2 separate regions of the Homo sapiens genome follow, and region 2 is reported to be linked to region 1. Evidence: microRNA targets listed by miRTarBase, many of them from high-throughput screens and not tested one by one. Region 1 holds a microRNA gene; the other region holds the end of a gene's coding sequence.
The links. The annotated mature microRNA hsa-miR-4715-5p reads AAGUUGGCUGCAGUUAAGGUGG and lies in region 1 at 1,875-1,896, opposite strand. An mRNA with a match to its seed (bases 2 to 7 or 8) in the 3' UTR can be bound and repressed. Matches are read on the target gene's strand: a 7mer-m8 pairs with bases 2 to 8, a 7mer-A1 pairs with bases 2 to 7 and ends in A, and an 8mer does both.

Region 2: the mRNA of DNAL1 is a reported target of hsa-miR-4715-5p. Seed matches in the 3' UTR shown: 7mer-A1 at 2,021-2,027.

Annotation. Positions count from the first base shown.
Region 1 is chr15:25,846,921-25,850,457 of GRCh38, forward strand. It overlaps MIR4715 (microRNA 4715), which reads right to left and starts at 1,905; the gene lies at 1,827-1,905. All of the region lies in intron 1 of ATP10A (ATPase phospholipid transporting 10A (putative)), which reads right to left. RefSeq lists enhancers at 3,364-3,413, 3,464-3,523.
Region 2 is chr14:73,695,606-73,698,605 of GRCh38, forward strand. DNAL1 (dynein axonemal light chain 1) reads left to right here. Exons shown (of 8, transcript NM_031427.4): 8 at 297-3,000. The coding sequence ends at 337. Among named protein-coding and RNA genes, the nearest start is that of PNMA1, 17 kb to the right of the region's middle. RefSeq lists an enhancer at 2,325-2,494.

The DNA.
Region 1 (3,537 bases):
ACCCCCACTTTGGGTGCACATGCCCACTTTTTACTGATAGAGGTGTGAGATCAAAAACATCTGAAGACTGTGGCTGTAATGAACCAGCTACACTAAAAAGGATCAATAACATATACATTTTTCTAAAAAGCATCCATAGAGCATCTTTGTCAGCTATCCTTGTTAAATTCTGGGTATTGGCTTTTATCAGGATAACTATCTGGTGTTAGACACTTTCTCAAAAGCCAGAAATATTTAAACAACTTGATCTCATCCACACACATCAAAGATCAAAGGGACACAGGAGGCTCTGACTGAGCAGCACGCGCAGGCACTCAGCCAGTGGCCCTGAGTAACATCTCTTGGGACCCCAGAGCCCCAGGGCCACCTGTTCTGCTCCCAGGCTCTGCCCCTTTTGGACTGAAACCTCCCTCTCTGGGCTCCCATTTCCTCACAGGAACAATGAAGAATTTATAAGCTCTTCACAGAGCTAGCTAAGAATGGTACCATACAAATTCATAAAAATTCAGGCAAGTATATGGTGCTAGAGAAATACGTGAAGTTTTATCACTAAGTATTTGAACAACAATTTTAAAAAGCACCTTTTTTCCACCGTATCATGATCTTTGCGGGTCACGGGGTCTTCATGATCCCACTAAGCAATTTGGAGCTATTCCATATATTCCTAGCTAATTCAAACAGCTACAGCCTTTTTTTTTTTTTTTTTTTTTTTTTTTTTTTTTTTTTTTTTGAGATAGAGTCTCACTCTGTCACCTGGGCTGGAGTGCAGTAGTGCAATCATAATCACGTCTCACAGCACTCTTAACCTTCTGTGCTCAAACAATCTCAGCCCCGCAAGCAGCTGGGACTACAGGCATGCACCACCATGCCCAGCTAATTTTTCGTATTTTTTGTAGGGATGAGGTTTTGCCATGTTTTCCAGGCTGGTATCCAACTCCTGAGCTCAAGCAATCCACCCACCTTGGCCTCCCAAAGTGCTGGGATTACAGATGTGAGCCACCACACCTGGCCTACAGCCATTTTTTAACGGAAATCATCTTAATCAATATTAACACACAAAAAGCTGTAGTTAAGAAGGTGGTTTCTGCCAGGCATGGCAGATAGAGCCTGTATTTCCAGCTACTTGGGAGGCTGAGGCAGGACTGTGTGAGGCCCAGAAGTTCAAGACCAGCCTGGCAACACAGCAAGACCTGGCCTCTAAAAAGTGTTTTTTTTTTTTAATCATCTGTAAAATGAGGATGCAAAACAAACAAAAAAATAAACATGGTATCTGTTTGTTAAACTCTGCAATGAACACATGTATTAGCTTCCCGCTGCGGCAACAAATTATGACAACTTGGTGGCTTGAAGTAACACAAATTTGGGGAGTTTTATTTTATTTATTTCATTTTATAGAGATGGGGTCTTGCCCAGGCTGGAGTGCAGTAGCATAATCACAGCCCAGTGCAACCCCAGTCTCCTGGTCTCAAGTGATCCTCCTGCCTCAGCCTCCTGAGGACCTGGGACTACAGGCTTGTGCCACTGCACCGGCTAAACAAATCTGTCATTTCACAATTCTGGAGGTCAATCTGACATGGATCTTACTGGGTCAAAACGATGGTTTCGGCAGGGCGGCGGGAGAGAATGTTTCCTTGCCTTTTCCAGCTCCTAGAGGCCGCCCACACTCCTTGACTCTAGGTCCTCCACTTTCAAAGCCAACAATGGCAAATTAAGTAGTATTCATATCGGATCTCTCTGCCCGCTTTTCTTCCACTTTTACAGACTTGTGATTACACTGGGCCCACAATTCACTCCAGAATAATCTCCCCATCTTTTTCCAAGAGAAAGGGGAATTAGAATTGGCTGCAGTTAAGGTGGCACCATCAGCTGATTAGCCACCTTAACTGCAGCCAACTTTCATTCCCCTTTCTCATGGGACCTAAGGGAGGGCAGTAGCTCCAGGGATGTTTTACAATTTAAGTTCTATTATTATTCAAGCACTATGGGGCTGACAGGTCAGGAGAGGACTGCCATTGAAAAGAGGATTTGTTACTCAGAGTCCTCCAGAGAAGGAGCTCGCCACACCTACCGCTGTGGGAGGGGGAACATAGGGGAGACCAGCGTCCTAGGAGGCAGAGACCTTGGTGAGAGGAGGGAGAGTCTTTTCTGTGCCTTCCATGGGAAAGAACAGGAGAGGCGGGGTAAGCAGGTTTAGAATCCATTAGTTTGAATAACCTCGGTGGACCCTGGGACAAAGGGCTGTCCCTAGCTGCTTGGTGGCTGGACCTGGGGTGATGAGAGCAGGTGCACAGTGGATGAAACACAGAGGGGGCCGAGGGTGTGGACGTTGGATTGGGTGGCTTGCACACGTAAGGCATGCTGCAGCAATGCTGTTTGCTATCTCTAGGAATTATCTAGCCCTGGGAGGGCCTGTCCCTCCGGAGGCAGCAAGGCTCCAGATGTCAAAGCACCAGACAAGAGAAAATAAAAAGACATCCTTAGTACAGGACTGAATAAGCAGGAACTGAGTTTAGATGTCACTGCATGCAGTAGTTGGGAACAGAGCCAAGAATTACAGACACCACCCTCCCTCCTTCTACGCCTTCTCCAAGTCCCAAGGGCGCATTATGAAGGAATTCCCATTAAGTCTGGCCAGACGCTTTACAGAGGAATTAACACAGGATAGGAAACTGAAAGGAGAAAAAGAGAAAAGACCAGAAACGGAGGAATTTAACCGTGATCAAGGAGGAGCACGGCGCAGCTGCAGGACTGAGCTCAACTCTGGCTCTCACCTCCATGCCAGAGAGAACCTGAGGGTCTCTGTCAGCATGGCCTCCTGGCCCCCAGACATGCTCCCCATGGATGTGAAAGACCACAGGCAGCAGCCAGATTTCTATGGAATGAATCAAACTTTCCATCCTGCTTAAAAGCAATGATTTTCTTTCCAAAAAAAAAAATAAATGTGTACATGGAAAATATTACAATGCAAGTCACAATGAGAGTTAAAAAAGACACACACATCTGATTTGACTAAAGTCTGTCCTGGCAACACGAATAAATAAAATAATGACAATGACACGATGGCACTATGAAATGCCATTACCTAGGTTTCTACCAATTAATTATGAGGGACAAGACATACATAACTAAATATAATTAAATCACGCAGGTCGATAAGATTACCCTTTTTGAGAAAATAATTACATGCCACGTATATTTTGAAACTGTTCAGTGGAGGTGAACAATTGTAGCCCATTATGTGTATGAGACATTCTGGAAAATATCGCTTTGACTTATGTTCAAAAATGGTTGGCTTGTTCAGAGAGAGAGAGTCAGTGGGGAGCACCCAGCAGGAACAGGGGCCTCCCCAGCTCGCTCTCTCCCTGCCTCGTCTTTCCTCTCACAATGCTCTCGGTTTTCTGAGTCAACCATGCTCCTGGGCCAAGGTGCAGCACTGGAGATGACCGAGACAGACAGCGTGGATGCGTTTTGTACGGGGAACAAAACTGATTTCCAACTTGGCAAAAAGCAACAGGAGAGGCCCCGGCTGTGTCTGGT
Region 2 (3,000 bases), not on the chromosome of region 1:
TGCAACCTCTGCCTCCCGGGTTCAAGCGATTCTCCTGCCTCAGCCTCCCAAGTAACTGGGATTACAACCGCCCGCCACCATGCCCAGCTAATTTTTGTATTTTTATAGAGACGGGGTTTCACCATGTTGGCCAGGATGGTCTTGAACTCCTGACCTCAGGTGATCCACCCGCCTCAGCCTCCCAAAGTGCTGGGATTACAGGCGTGAGCCACCGTGCCCGGCCAGGAAAATATTTTCATCTAGAATTTTAGCAATTTTTTGAGAATAACCAGTAATAATTTTCTTTTTCATTTTAGGTACTCCAGTAATTAAAGGGGATGAGGAAGAAGACAACTAATGCCACGCTTTCCACTGTGTGTTAACTTATTTAAATGTCATAAGAACAATAGATAAATTTTATATAATTGTCTATTTTAAAGATTCTGTATGGGACAAAAGTTTCTTAAGATAAAACAGATCACTCATTCTCATCTTTTTTTTTCCTTTAACTTATTCAGTGTTTCTCCCCAAAACTGGTAATGCCAACCTTATATATCCTATTTCTCTTTTTAGAAACCACAAATTTTCGATTTTTGTCTTCAGTCTCAGTTACGTACTGTGTAGCCCCATCTACTAAAACAAAACCTTTGTAGACCAGTCATTTTTAATAACAAAGGAACAAATGTTTTTTTCAGTTTGTTCATTTTTTTTAGGTTAGACATTTTAAAAGATGTACATTTGAAAATTCAGAACATTTTTCCTGAAGGTCTGTCTCTGTACAATTCAGAAGCACATGCCTTTAGCTCAGAAGGCAGCATGGTGATGGGAAGAGTTCCTCTTAGAAATACAGCAGGTCCGGAACCAAGACTCCAAAGTTCCATTGGAAAAGATATGGTGAAAAAAGGAAAAAGTAGTATCTCAGAGACCTTCTAGTCTATATTATACTTATTTGTTTTTCCAAAAATGTGCACATTGTCAACTGGAATTTAGGTTGTTTTTATATGCATGGCCACTTGAGTCATTGTGTACAGTCATTCTGTGATCTCAGTTAGTGGTTAAAATGACTGTCATGATCATTTCTTTGACTGATAATGTGGCAATGTTACTCATGTGGACCTCGCCTTAAGCACACATTTTGGTTTTATAGTTCCTTATGTGTTTAAAGCATTAGTTATATTTGAATTCCTAGACTAAATGCTGGCCATTGATGTATGTCAAAATTTACCCTAATTATTTGGTCTGGTGACCCTCATTGTTGGGAAAAGTGACTACCATGGTTATAAGTAAGGGTATAATGAAACTTAGTATTTCAAAATATATTTTTTGAGAAGTTCTAAGTTAAACAGCTCTTAAAATGTATTATGTACGTGGTTGTGGAGGGAAGGGAGATGTTTCATTATGAGATCCCAGGCAAATGGCAATATGTTTGAGGATTGTCTCCTACATAAAGCAGTGTAGGTGATTTAACCTCAAAATTGCAAAGCAATAGTTAGATGCAGAGGTTAGAATTTATCATGTAAACAAAAAATCCTTCAGGAAAATGTAAGACATTGTAGTCAGTAAGCAGATGAGGTCATAGGAGGCCATGGCTGGATCACTATTAGATTGCAGAAAAGAAGTCAGGGGCCCTCTGCCAAATTGTGCCTAAAGTCCCTCAGAGACTGTTGATTCTGGTTTCCCCATCTACTTGTGTGATTTTACTTGCATAAAATCACAGTGAAAGAGGGAAGAATCATCTTTAAAAAGTGATTGCATAAGTAGTCCTGGGTTTCAGAAGATTTCAGCTATCATTTACATAGGAATTACTTGATTTTTCTAAGTTACTCTGATCAAAAGGGACCACTGCTTTGACAATCAACTCTAAATACAAACAAGAGGCCAGGCGTGGTGGCTCATGCCTGTCATCCCAGCACTTTGGGAGGCCGAGGCGGGCGGATCATCTGAGATCAGGAGTTCAAGACCAGCCTGACCAACATGGTGAAACCCCGTCTCTACTAAAAATACAAAAATTAGCCAGTCCTGGTGGTGGGCGCCTGTAGTCCCAACTACTCGGGAGGCTGAGGCAGGAGAATCATTTGAACCCGGGAGGCGGAGGTTGCAGTGAGCCGAGATTGCGCCATTGCACTCCAGCCTGGGCAATAGAGCGAGACTCCATATTTAAAAAAAAAAAAAAAAAAAAAAGAGGAAAACTTGGTCTAACACCCTTTTAGTTTTCTTTTCTCTCTTCTTTTCAATCTGATAGGAAGAAACCTTATTCTACTCTAGCTGGTTTATGCATTCAAAGCCTTTGGACATTTCTTTTATGAACCATAGGCAATGAGCCTTCATTCTCCTTGGTGATGTTTTAAGTTCCATAAACTGAGAGGGAAGATGATCTTCTTAAAGTTTGCACTTCCTTCAGTAGGCAAGCTTGAAGCCATGTTGATATGGATATGTTTTCTAAAAGTAACCCTGGAAGTGAATATAATAGGAAGTAAGTGATTTCATATTGAATTTATTTGTAAAATGGCTTAGAGTTTTGGTGTTTGTTTTTTCTGAATTCTGTAATATAGAAACTGGTTCTCTTTCTCCTTGTTTCTCAATGACTTTTAATTACAGGTAGTTCTCAGACAAATGTAAGATACTTTTCTCTGTCCATTTCATGCAAAATTCATATTCAGTATCATTCAACAAATCTTTGAATGACTTCTATGCATCCCTGTTCATGGAACCCATGCCATTAGAAAATGGCAGTTGGGATGTATGAAGAAATGTAGGATATTCTCTCAAATCATTCCCTAAATTATCCTTTACTGCTGCAAATTTAGCTGATAAAACTGCCTTTGGTTTATGCCTCTTGGATCAGATATTTGACCTATGTGGAATAGATTATCTCTGTGCTTCCGGTTTAAGACATTACGCCATTTTAGTGGATCATTTAAATTTTTTCTATTCTGTTTTTTTTTGTTTGTTTGTTTGTTTGTTTTAAACAGAGTCTCACTCCCGAGTAGCTGGGACCACAGGCACGTGCCATCATGCCTG